Linked DNA regions of Homo sapiens: all the other regions are linked to region 1. The links come from fine-mapping of genetic effects on gene expression. A gene starts in region 1. Each other region holds a variant in brackets. All regions are shown on one strand. Distances are from middle to middle. Region 1 holds the start of TRAF3 (TNF receptor associated factor 3). Region 2 overlaps TRAF3 (TNF receptor associated factor 3). Region 3 overlaps TRAF3 (TNF receptor associated factor 3). Region 4 overlaps TRAF3 (TNF receptor associated factor 3).

Evidence for each region. PIP is the estimated chance that this variant, and not a neighbour inherited with it, causes the effect.
Region 2: its variant is fine-mapped to the expression of TRAF3 in whole blood (TOPMed, PIP above 0.99).
Region 3: its variant is fine-mapped to the expression of TRAF3 in whole blood (TOPMed, PIP 0.92).
Region 4: its variant is fine-mapped to the expression of TRAF3 in whole blood (INTERVAL, PIP above 0.99).

Annotation. Positions count from the first base shown.
Region 1 is chr14:102,776,251-102,778,995 of GRCh38, forward strand. It overlaps TRAF3 (TNF receptor associated factor 3), which reads left to right and starts at 1,199. Exons shown (of 12, transcript NM_145725.3): 1 at 1,199-1,425. RefSeq lists an enhancer at 1-11 and silencers at 722-781, 872-1,481, 1,692-1,741, 1,982-2,041.
Region 2 is chr14:102,872,142-102,874,641 of GRCh38, forward strand. The region is part of intron 4 of TRAF3 (TNF receptor associated factor 3); the gene reads left to right. Among named protein-coding and RNA genes, the nearest start is that of AMN, 49 kb to the right of the region's middle. The variant G/A (reference allele first, on the strand shown) is at 1,448.
Region 3 is chr14:102,813,809-102,816,553 of GRCh38, forward strand. The region is part of intron 1 of TRAF3 (TNF receptor associated factor 3); the gene reads left to right. Among named protein-coding and RNA genes, the nearest start is that of TRAF3, 38 kb to the left of the region's middle. The variant A/G (reference allele first, on the strand shown) is at 1,195.
Region 4 is chr14:102,906,621-102,909,362 of GRCh38, forward strand. It overlaps TRAF3 (TNF receptor associated factor 3), which reads left to right. Exons shown (of 12, transcript NM_145725.3): 12 at 1-2,742. Among named protein-coding and RNA genes, the nearest start is that of AMN, 15 kb to the right of the region's middle. The variant C/T (reference allele first, on the strand shown) is at 1,485.

The DNA.
Region 1 (2,745 bases):
CCTGCCTCCACTCACATGAGTCACTGGAGCAATACAAGAAGGCAGACTGGCCTTGGCTACTCACACTGGTCTCAGCTCTGGGGTAGGGCTCTTTATAAGCCTTCTTGAGAAGTGAAAAATGCAAAGTCCTTTCTGTCCCCTCACCACTGACTTGCAAACTCCAGCGAAGGCCTCACCCCTCAGCTGGCCCAGAGCCTCCCAGAAGCCCTCCCTTCGCTTCCCACCTCGCCAGGCCCAGCCAGGCTGGGTGCTGCCTTGGTGGGCCTAGGTGAATCACTGACACACCACTGATGCCTTTGGGGCAGAAGGCAGAGGCCTCGGGAGAAATGCGCAGGCCCCAGCGGCCTGGTGGAGGGTGCAGGGGGCGCAGGGGCAGCCAGGACCGCCGAGGACGCTGGGGGCACGTGGCAAACTGGCTACCCTGTCCACCCGTGAGCAAGACACCACTCCGGGGGCGTGGGAGGGTCCAAGGGAGGGAGAAAGGAAAGTGCCACCAAACTAATGTGGAGCCCTGCCCTCTGCATGCGAAAAGGGGCTCCACGGCCTGAGTCACCCTCAGCCCCACCTGCGTGTGCGCGAGGGTGCGTGGCCTGGTACGCGTGCGCACGGTGTTGGTGAGCGTGTGTGTGCGTGTCCGCTTGAGGGGAATGTGACCGTCGTGTATGCGTCCGCGACAGTGCGGGGGGCCGCATATCGGACCCGTGCGTGTGCGTAGGGGTCGCGTGTGGCCATGGGCACACGGGCGTGCACGCACGGGGGCTGCGTATGCTATGCTGGCGTGGGGGGTGCGGGCGAGGTGGCCGCGGGGAGGAGCGGCGCCAGCACCTCTCGGCCCCCACGCGGCCTGCGTGGCTTTTTGACCCGGAAAGGCGGGGACGCGGGGACGCGCGGCGGCGGGGGCGCGGCGGGGGCGGCGCAGAGCGAGGAGGCCCGCGGGGCGCGCGGCGGGGACGGGAGGGAGGCGGGGGGCGCCCGGGGCCGTCCCCGCCCCGCGCCGCGGCGCCGCCGTTGCTAAGGCCGGGCGGGCGGCCGCCGGGCGCTAGGGCCCTTAGCAACGGGTCGCGGGCGCGCGCGGGGGGCCGGCGGGCGCGTGGGGCCGGCGGCGCTCGCGGGCTCCTGCCGCTCCCACGCGCGCGGGCGGCGGGGGCGGGGCGGCGGGCGCGCCGGGGATTTCCAGCGCGCGAGAGGAAGTGCCTGCGCGGGGCTGCGTGAGGGAGCGAGGGAGCGAGGGAGCGCGGCGCGGCCGCCGCGTGCGCGAGCCGGGGTTGCAGCCCAGCCGGGACTTTCCAGCCGGCGGCAGCCGCGGCGGCCGCCGGCTCTTCCCCGCCCCCCGCCATGGGGCAGCCCGGGGAGCAGAACGCTGCGGACCGCGGCGGAGGACGCGCCCGGCGCCCCTGAGCCGGCCGAGCGGCGACGGACCGCGAGGTAAGGGGCCGCGGCGGGCGGGCGGGCCTCCGGCGCGCGGCCGGGCGCCTCCATCCCCGTCGCCTCCATCCCGCGCCCTGGGCGGCGGGGCCCGGGGGCCTCGGGGCTGCCCGGCGCGGGCCCGGCGCGGCGCAGGCCCGGCCCGTCCCAGCGGCGACGGCGGGGCGCGGCTTCAGCCTGGCCCCGCGCCCCAGCCGGGCTGCCTCCCGCCTCCGGACGCCTCAACTTCGGCAAACTTTGTCCCGGAGGCCGGGCTCGGGGCCCGAGGGGGCCGGGGCGCCCGCACCTTTTCAGGAAACGGGGCGCGCAGGCCTCGCTACGGCCGTGACCCCCGCTGGCGTTGAGGACCCGGCACCCCGCGGGGCCGCGGGTTTCACGCGGGGGGACGGGCGGCTCAGGGGCTGCGTGGCCGAGCGCGCTGCCCGGGCCGGCCGGGGGGGCCCGGGCGTTATTGGAAAGTTGGTCCTGAGTCATTCCGCCTCAGAGGCGCCTCCGACCGCTTGGCGGGCGGCGCGGGGGTCCGGGTATGGGCAGAGGGCGCGAATCCCCCTCGCGCGGCCGCCGAGGGCCGGCGACTCCCGGGGCACCGGGCGGCTCCTGGCCGCGGGCTCTGCGTCTTCCCCGCGGGCGCCAGGCGGCTCTCGGCGGGCTGGCCGGTTCCACGCCGCCAGCCAGCCCCGTGTGGGGACTTCGGTCTAGTATTTGGACCCGAGGAGATAATTCTGTGTGGAAAATTCTCTCCCTTCGGTTGGAAACAGTAACAAACTGGAAACGGATGAGGTGTTATGGACGTGCTTGGAAATGCAAGAAACCTTCAGATTACGAGCTGTTGACGGGACCAGTTGTATTTCACGTTTTTCGAATTAAGCTCAGAATCAGTTTTCAGAATGACATGTGATGCGTGGTGCGTGGTGTGTGTGCCTGTGTGTGTGTATGGATATAATTCATTCATTTTTGTGGCGTCAGAAAGGTTATGTCGAGCGTTGTAGCGGCTTCTTAATTTACATTCACGGCATACAACTGAAGAGGAGCCATTATTTATTTTTTTTCCTAGCATTTGCTGCGACTACACACTGCCGGAGCGTTTGGAAATGTTGTTTGCTGTTACCCTGTATTTGTCTATAAAATTCTTACTGTAGGGAATGGCCAAGTGGACCATCAGTTCGTCCTGAGATCTTCTCATGTCTCTCACGTCTTTGAAAATGGCCTGTGAACAGACTGCATCATATGTAGGATGTCTGGCAAAATAGTGTACAGCGTTCTTTTCTCAAATGAGAGGAAATGTGTACCTTTTCGCCGCGTTGTGACAATGTAAATGTT
Region 2 (2,500 bases), 96 kb after region 1:
TCAGATCCACTTGGCCACTTCCCTACTGTGTGAACTCTGTGAGCTACTTCACCCCCTCACCTGTAATAATCATATCACCTGCTAAGACCGCAGGGAGCTGGTGTGAGGAGTAAGGGGTTGATGTGAGCAAAGTGCTGAGATGCCTGTCTGTGGCAGGGCTGTCTGTGGTTGGGTCACTTCCGTCATTGCAGGTCTTTATCCCAGACAGCTTCTACTCAACTCTTACACTAGGTTTTACCTTCAGACTCGCTAGGCTGAGGGGTTCATTTGAGTTTGTGCTCCCTGCCCCCCAGGCCCCCTGTGATATCTTTAAGTCATTAGACATGAGTGAGATTAGCCCCTTCTCGCCCCCTGTGGCTGTCCTCAGCTAGAGCCCGTGGGCGTCTCTGCACATTCAGAGGATGGGGCTGCCCAGCCTGCCACCAGCTTCTCTCCTGGGGCCTGGTCCTTCTCATGGAGACTGACAGTCATCCATGTGCTGCTGTACCCTGCCAGGTATACTTGGAGTTTGAAACAATTCTTTTCTTTTCTTTCTCTCTCCTTTCTTTCTTCTTTTTCTTTTTTTTTTGCGACAGAGTTCACTCTTGTTGCACAGGCTGGAGCACAATGGCACGATCTTGGCTCGCTGCAGCCTCCACCTCCCAGGTTCAAGCAATTCTCATGCCGCAGCCTCCCGAGTAGCTGGGATTACAGGCACGAGCCACCACGCCCAGCTAATTTTTGTATTTTTAGTAGAGACGGGGTTTCACCGTGTTGGTTAGGCCAGTCTCGAACTCCTGACCTCAGGTGATCCACCTGCCTCGGCCTCCCAAAGTGCTGGGATTACAGGCATGAGCCACCGCACCCAGCAATTCATTCTTAAAGTGCTTAAAATATCAATAAAAATGTGTGTTTCCCTACTTTGAGTAATATACCTAACCATTTTTTAAATGCAGGTCACTAAGTTGTACAATAAAATTCTTACTCTGGGGTTTTCCTGTCTAAAGCACCTTGCAGATTGGGTTTGTTGGTCAGAGCAGCCCAGGTGAGTGCAGTGATTTGAGGATTGCTGGTAGTCAGTGTCCCTGGGCTGCCAGGCACACAGGCATCCAGTATAGCCGCTCTGGAAGGGGGAGAGATGGAATTGGCCACCTGGCCCTGTACCTTTTCTTTCTCTGCATTTACCTGCTGCTGCTGCAGGCTTGGTTAGTTCCTTGAGTGAAAACAGCCCCTCCCCTCCACTCTGTGCCTTGGCCTAGCATGGTACTCGGCCGCCTTGTTAACATGTGCCTAACGTGTGAGTGAGAGAGAAGCTCGCGACGATGGCTGAGATGTTTTTTTAGTATCTCTGTTTTGTTATGCAGAATCATTATCCCTATTTTTTAATGACATAAGTAGCTGAAGAAAAATGGCTAGTTTTATCAAAGAATCATGAACGAGATGCACTCAAGTTGTGGACCCTCATGGA[G/A]AGAATGGAGCTGTCTGGGCCCCGGGTGACCCGGATCCTCACCCGTCAGCAGGTCATCCAGGGGTGGGCGGGCCTCTGGTCTTCATCTGTAAACAGAGACATTTTGAGTAAATAGTCTCAGATCCTTTCCATTCCAAAGTTCTGTTGACTTTAGTATCTCAAGTCATGACCTTCTTTTTTTTTTAGTCATGTTTATGAAAGATAAGCTTTGGCTCCAAATTAGTTTATTTTTAACTCTTAACAGCTGTTGATTTTATTTCTCTCAGCAGTCCAAAAAGGCACATTAAGCTCCTGTTATTCCACTTTCATAGAGCAACAGGCAGGAGTTTCTTAGAAATAACCTTTGGACTAAGATGTTGTAGATCGTGTTGTTAGAAAGAGTGAGAGGGAGCTGGGCATGGTGCCTTATGCCTGGGATCCCAGGACTTTGGGAGGCTGAGGCAGGTGGATCACTTGGGCTCAGGAGTTCGAGACCAGAGTGGGCAGCATATGGAGACCCCATCTCTACAAAAATGAAAATTAAAAAGTTACCTGGGCTTGGAGGCATGCGCCTGTAGTTCAAGCCACTCAGGAGGCTGAGGTGAGAGGATCGCTTGAGCCCAGGAGTTTAAGGGTGTAGTGAAGCCATGATTGCACCAGTGCGCTCCAGCCTGGGTGACAGAGTGAAACCCACCCTGTCTCTTTTTGAGACAGAGTCTCACTCTCTTGCCCAGGCTGGAGTACAATGGCGTGATCTCAGCTCACTGCAACCTCCTCCTCCCGGGTTCAAGCGATTCCCCTGCCTCAGCCTCCCGAGTAGCTGGGACTACAGGCATGTGCCACCACACCCGGTTAATTTTTTTGTATTTCTAGTAGAGATGGGGTTTCACCGTGTTGGCCAGGCTGGTCTCAAACTCCTGACCTCAGGTGATCCACCCACCTCGGCCTCCCAAAGTGCTGGGATTACAGAGGTGAGTCACTGTTCCCAGTCAACCCTGTCTCTTAAAAAAAGAGTGAGAATGAGAATACTTGTGTTTTCTAAGGGAAAAATAAAATTAAAAGTTGAAAGGTTTT
Region 3 (2,745 bases), 38 kb after region 1:
GTATATCAATCCCCTGTTGGATGAATAGTTCGCAAATACTTTCTCCCATTCTGTAGGTTGGCTTTTCATTCTATTGTTTCCTTTGTTTTGCTGAAGCTTTTTAGCTTGATATAATCCCATTCATTTATGTTTGCTTTTGTTGTCCGTGCTTTTCAGTTACTCATCAAATCTTTTCCCAGACCAATGTGATGAAGCATTTCCCCTATGTTTTGTAGTAGTTTTATCATTTGGGTCTTATATTTAGGTCTTTGATTCATTTTTAGTTCATTTTTGTATAGGATGAGAGGTGGAGGTCTAGTTTCTATTTTCACTCTTCTGCATATGGATATTTAATTTTCACAGCACCATTTGTTGAAGAGACTGTCCTTTCCCCAATGAATGTTCTTGGCGCCTTTGTCAAAAATCAGTTGGCTGTAGATATGCAGGTTAATTCCTGGGTTTTCTATTCTTTTCCATTGGTCTGTGTATCTGTTTTTATAGACACATACCAGTTGTTTTATAGACCAGTACCGTGTCGTTTTGCTTACTACAGCTTTGTAGTATATTTTAAGGTTTGGTAGTGTGATACCTCCAGCTCTGTTCTTCTTGCTCAGCATTGCTTTGGCTATTTGGGGTCTTTTGCAGTTTCATACAAATTTTAGGATATTTTTTCTATTTCTGTGAACAATGTCATTGGTATTTTGATGGAGATTGCTCTTTTAATTATCTTGATTTCTTTTTTTCCCCCCCAAGACAGGGTCTCACTTCGTTATCTAGGCTGGAGTGCAGTGGCATGATACAGCTCAGTGCAGCCTTGACCTCCTGGACTTAGGTGATCCTCCCACCTCAGCCTCCTGAATAGCTGGGACTGCAGGCACATGCCACCACATCTGGCTAATTTTTTGTACTTTTTTTTGTAGAGACGGGGTTTTGCCATGTTGCCCAGGCTGGTCTCGAGCTCCTGAGCTCAAGCGGTCCACCCACCTCAGCCTCCCAAAGTGCTGGGATTACAGGCATACACCACTGCACCTGGCCTCTTTTCAATTTCTTGATGGTGTTCTTTGATGTACAAAAGTTTTTAACTTTAAATGAAGTCCAGTTTATCTACTTTTTCTTTGGCTTATTGTGCTTTTGGTATCCTTTTCTTTTCTTTTCTTTCTTTTTCTGAGACAGAATCTCGCACTGTTGGCCAGGCTGTAGTGCAGTGGCACAATC[A/G]TGGCTCACTGTAGCCTCGACCTCTAGAGCTCAAGGGAGCCTACTGCCTTAGCCTCCTGAGTAGCTAGGGCTACAGGCGGTACCATTATGCCTGGTTAATTTTTTAAATTATTTTTTGTAGAGACAGAGTTTTACTATGTTGCCCGGGCTGGTCTCAAACTGCTGGGCTCAAGCAGTTCTCCTGCTTCAGCCTCCTAAAGTGTTGGGATTACAGATGTGAGCCACTGTTCCTGGCTTGGAGTCATTTCTAAGAAACCATTGCCTAATCCAAGGTCGTGAAGATTTACATCTTTCTTCTAAGAATTATATAGTTTTAGTTCTTTTCTGCTGTGATCATGTGTGTATGTGTTGGTTTTTTATTTTTATTTTTTTGAGACTGGGTCTTGCTGTATTGCCAGGCTGGAGTGCAGTGCTTATCCATAGCCATGATCATAGTGTACTGCAGCCTTGAACACTTGGGCTCAAGTGATCTTTCTGCCTTAGCTTCCCAGGTAGTTAGGACTACAGTGCATACCACTGTGCCTGGCTTATTGTGTGATCTATTTTGAGTCAATTTTTGTGGTGTGAGATAGGGGTCCAGTTTCATTCTTTTACATGTGTATATTTACATTTTGTAGTTCATTTGTTGAAGGGACTACTTGTATTAGTCTGTTCTCATACTGCTATAAAGAAATTCCCCAGACTGGGTAGTTTTTAAAGGAAAGAGGTTTAATTGATTCACAGTTCTACATGTCTGGGGAGGCCTCAGGAAACTTACAATCAAGGCAGACGGGGAAGCAGGCACGTCTTACATGGCAGCAGGCAAGAAGGAGCGTGTGTGAGTGCAGGAAAAACTACCATTTATAAAACCATCAGATCTGGTGATAATTCACTCACTGTCATGAGAACAGCCTGGGGACACCACCACTATAATCCAATCACTTCCTTCCCTTGACACATGGGGATTACAATTCGAGATGAGATTTGGGTGGACACAGAGCCAAACCGTATTACTATTCTTTCTCCATTGAATGGTCTTGGTGCCCTTATCAAAAATGTATTTTCCATAAAAAAACACCAATTGACCATAAATATAAGGGCTTATTTCTGGACTCTAAATTCTATTTTTTTTTTTTTAAGAAACAGGGTCTCACTCTGTTGCCCAGGCAGGAGTGTAGTGATGCCATCTCAGTTCTCTTCAACCTCCGCCTCCTGGGCTCAGGTGATCCTCTCACCTCAGCCCCCCAAGTAGCTGGGACTACGAGCACATGCCACCACCCTCGCCTAATTTTTGTATTTTTTGTAGAGATGGGGTTTTACCATGTTGGCCAGGCTGGTCTCGAACTCCTGAGCTCAAGCAGTCCACCCTCCTCAGCCTCCCAAAGTGCTACGATTACATGCATTAGCTACCATACACCGATTGTACAGGCCACAGGCTAGCCCCACACACCAGATTTTGAAGATTAAGTGTGGTTTAAAAAAATGCAAAATATCCTGTTAATAATTTTTGATAATATTACATGTTGAAATGATAAAGTTTAATGTTGTGTTAAATAATACACAGTAAATTTT
Region 4 (2,742 bases), 130 kb after region 1:
GCATCATTTTCAGATTTATAATTGTTTTCACCCTAAAATAGGGCATCCGTTGAACTTTGGAGTTCTAAACAAAATCCTGTAGGTGTTTGGATTCTGCCCCATGTGTTCGGACGAGCTCTCTGTTGCTGACAGCACCGGCCTTCGGTCTCCATGTCAGGGGTGGGCGGGTGACTGCTGAGGGAGGCCCGCAGGTGTGTTTCTCCATCCCGTCATCTTGCTGCATGCCGTCAACGGTCTCCGAAAGCAACGTTGTGCGTAGAGCTGGTGGCATACGGCCCACGTGCCTTAGATGGGACATGCTGCTTCTCCACCCTGGGTTTGCATTGAGCATCATTCTAGAAAGTGCTAGTTTAACCAGACTTTTCTCTCCACCACTAGATCTTTGTCTCTACAAGGGCCCTCAGACACCTCTGCACCTGCTGAGGGGAAGCCAGGCTCCACCGTCGGCTTCTGGAGCCTCCGCTGCTTAATTACCACAGATTCCAAATCTCTAGGCCCCACGAGTGAGCCGCCTGGTCCAAGTACGGCCTGGTCCCACCCTGAGGGAGGCAGGTGTGGAACAGAAGCCGAGCCTCTCCGTGTCCCCACCGGGGCCGTGGGCACCCCCACAGCCCGAAGCAGAACCCTCTGAGCATTCCAGAGACCGCTGCTCGGGGGCCTGCCCAGGCTGACCAACGGGCGCTCCTGACCACCACCCTGGCGGGAAGGGTGGCCACGGGGCCCGTCGTCCCAGCCTGTGCCTGCCCAGATGGCATTTTCTCAACTCACTGTTTACTGTCTCTCAGTGTCCAACTGTGATTAGAAGCCTGGAGCCTGCCCCCTGCACCCCTTTTGCTATGCACCACGCTTCATGGTGCTCTTACCACTGATGGGTGCTACACGCGACGGGTGCTTCTTAGGCAAAACCAATGTGTGCGAACTGTCACACCTGTGCCACTCGCCCACAAGCCGCGCCCACAATTGGCCAGCTGGGCCGTGCACGTCAGACTGCCTGCCTCGGCTCTCCCCGTGGCCGCGCGGGGACAGCTTGGTGGGTGCCCGGTGGCCCACCTGTCTCTGGTGCTGCCATCTGTCCTGGGTGTGCCTTCGCCCCAGTGCCTGCTGGAAGTGCCCTCCGTCGCACCCCTGTGCCCTGAGCTCCCGTGAGGGGCCCGCCGCGCCCTTTCGCGGTCGAAGCGTTCCGTTGTTCTTATCTGCCTTTCCTTTCCCCGCTCTCCTGGGATTACTTTGGGGGAATGAGTATCCTTGGTTCTGCCCTGTGAGGGAGTCGTGTGTCCCTGCTCATAAAGGAAGGACTTCCTGCAGAAGCTGCGGAAAACTACTGTTCCCTCGAAGGTGTCCCCCACCTGAGGCCTGTCCCCTACCTGCCCTCAGGTAGTTTTCCTGAGGCCAGGGGTTAACAACAGGGACATCCCTGCAACTTCCCCTTCACAAAATGTATAATATTAGATGAAGGATATGCAACATCTTGGTCTAGTAAGAAC[C/T]GTTTCCTCCCCTCTGGGTTGAAGTCCTGGTGTGGCCCCCAGAAGCAGCAGTGCGTGTCACTGGGACGTCTCCAGTAGCCCTTCCCAGGCAGACGCTCCTGGCGGGACGCCATGGGGCCCACCTGAGGGTCCCACAGACGTAACCTGAGTGACAGGAGTCCTTGAGGATGGGATGGCCTATGTCACACACTTTGTCCTTGAACCTGAGTGATGGGGGTCCTTGAGGATGGGATGGCCTGTGTCACGCGCTTTGTCTTTGTGTTTGGTTGTATCGGGGTCTCTGTTCTGAGTGTGTCTTCCTCTCATGTACTCAACACAGTGGGCAGCAGCCTGGGACGGCGTCCCCTCTCCCGGCGGCGGGCAAGCCTTGCGCTGCTCCACCCTCGGCCTGGGCACCCTCACTTGGCGCTGGCCACCTGGGCCAGCCTGGGGCCATGGTCTCTCTGCAGCTGAGGCCCAGTGGCCCCTTGGGCAGTGATCGGCCCTCCCCGCATCACAGGGCCCTGGCAGCAAGCGGGAAATGGGGGCGCACACTGTGTGCTTGGGGGTGCTGCTTGTTTACCACACATGACCAGACTCCCAGCAGGACAGAGCTGCTCAGTACTTTACAGAAACCAACTGAGTCGTTTGTGCATGAATTAAGCCGGTCTGCTTCCCCGTCACCTTCGTAACAAAACAACGTCCCCTCTCCCCTCGCCTCGAGCAGTTTCTTCAGGACACCGTGGCTCGGGCTGCTCCCTGCTGCCAGGCACGCTGGTTGGCTGGCCTGGGCCCGGCTCACGTGAAGGGCACTGGCTCTTGTGACCACACTGAGCCACGTGCAAGCCGCAGCCGGGCCTGGAAGCCTGACCCTCTGGTTCTAGGGCTTGTCCCGCGGAGCCTGCAGAGCTAGACGTTGGGGTGTGTCCGTGATGATATGGGGGCCAGGCTGGGAGTAGGGCCTTTCTAGCAGGGTTGGGTGGCTCAGTGAGGGTGTGGAAGTGGGGGACCCACGGGGCCTGGCTTTGGGACTAGACATGCCAGCCCCAGCTGGGCTGGAGGGAGCCTGAGTGAGCCCCGACATACGCTGGGCCTTTCAGCTCGCCGTGCTCTGGTGACACACAGGCGGCCAGGTTGGGATTTGTGTCAATTCTAGGAGCCATCAAGCATGAATGTGGTTCTGTCTCCTGAGCGCAAGCCTCGCCGGACCCCTGGGCGAAGGCCTGGACTTGCAGATGTGTGTTCCCTGTGCGGGTGGACAGAGGGGGCCCTTATGACC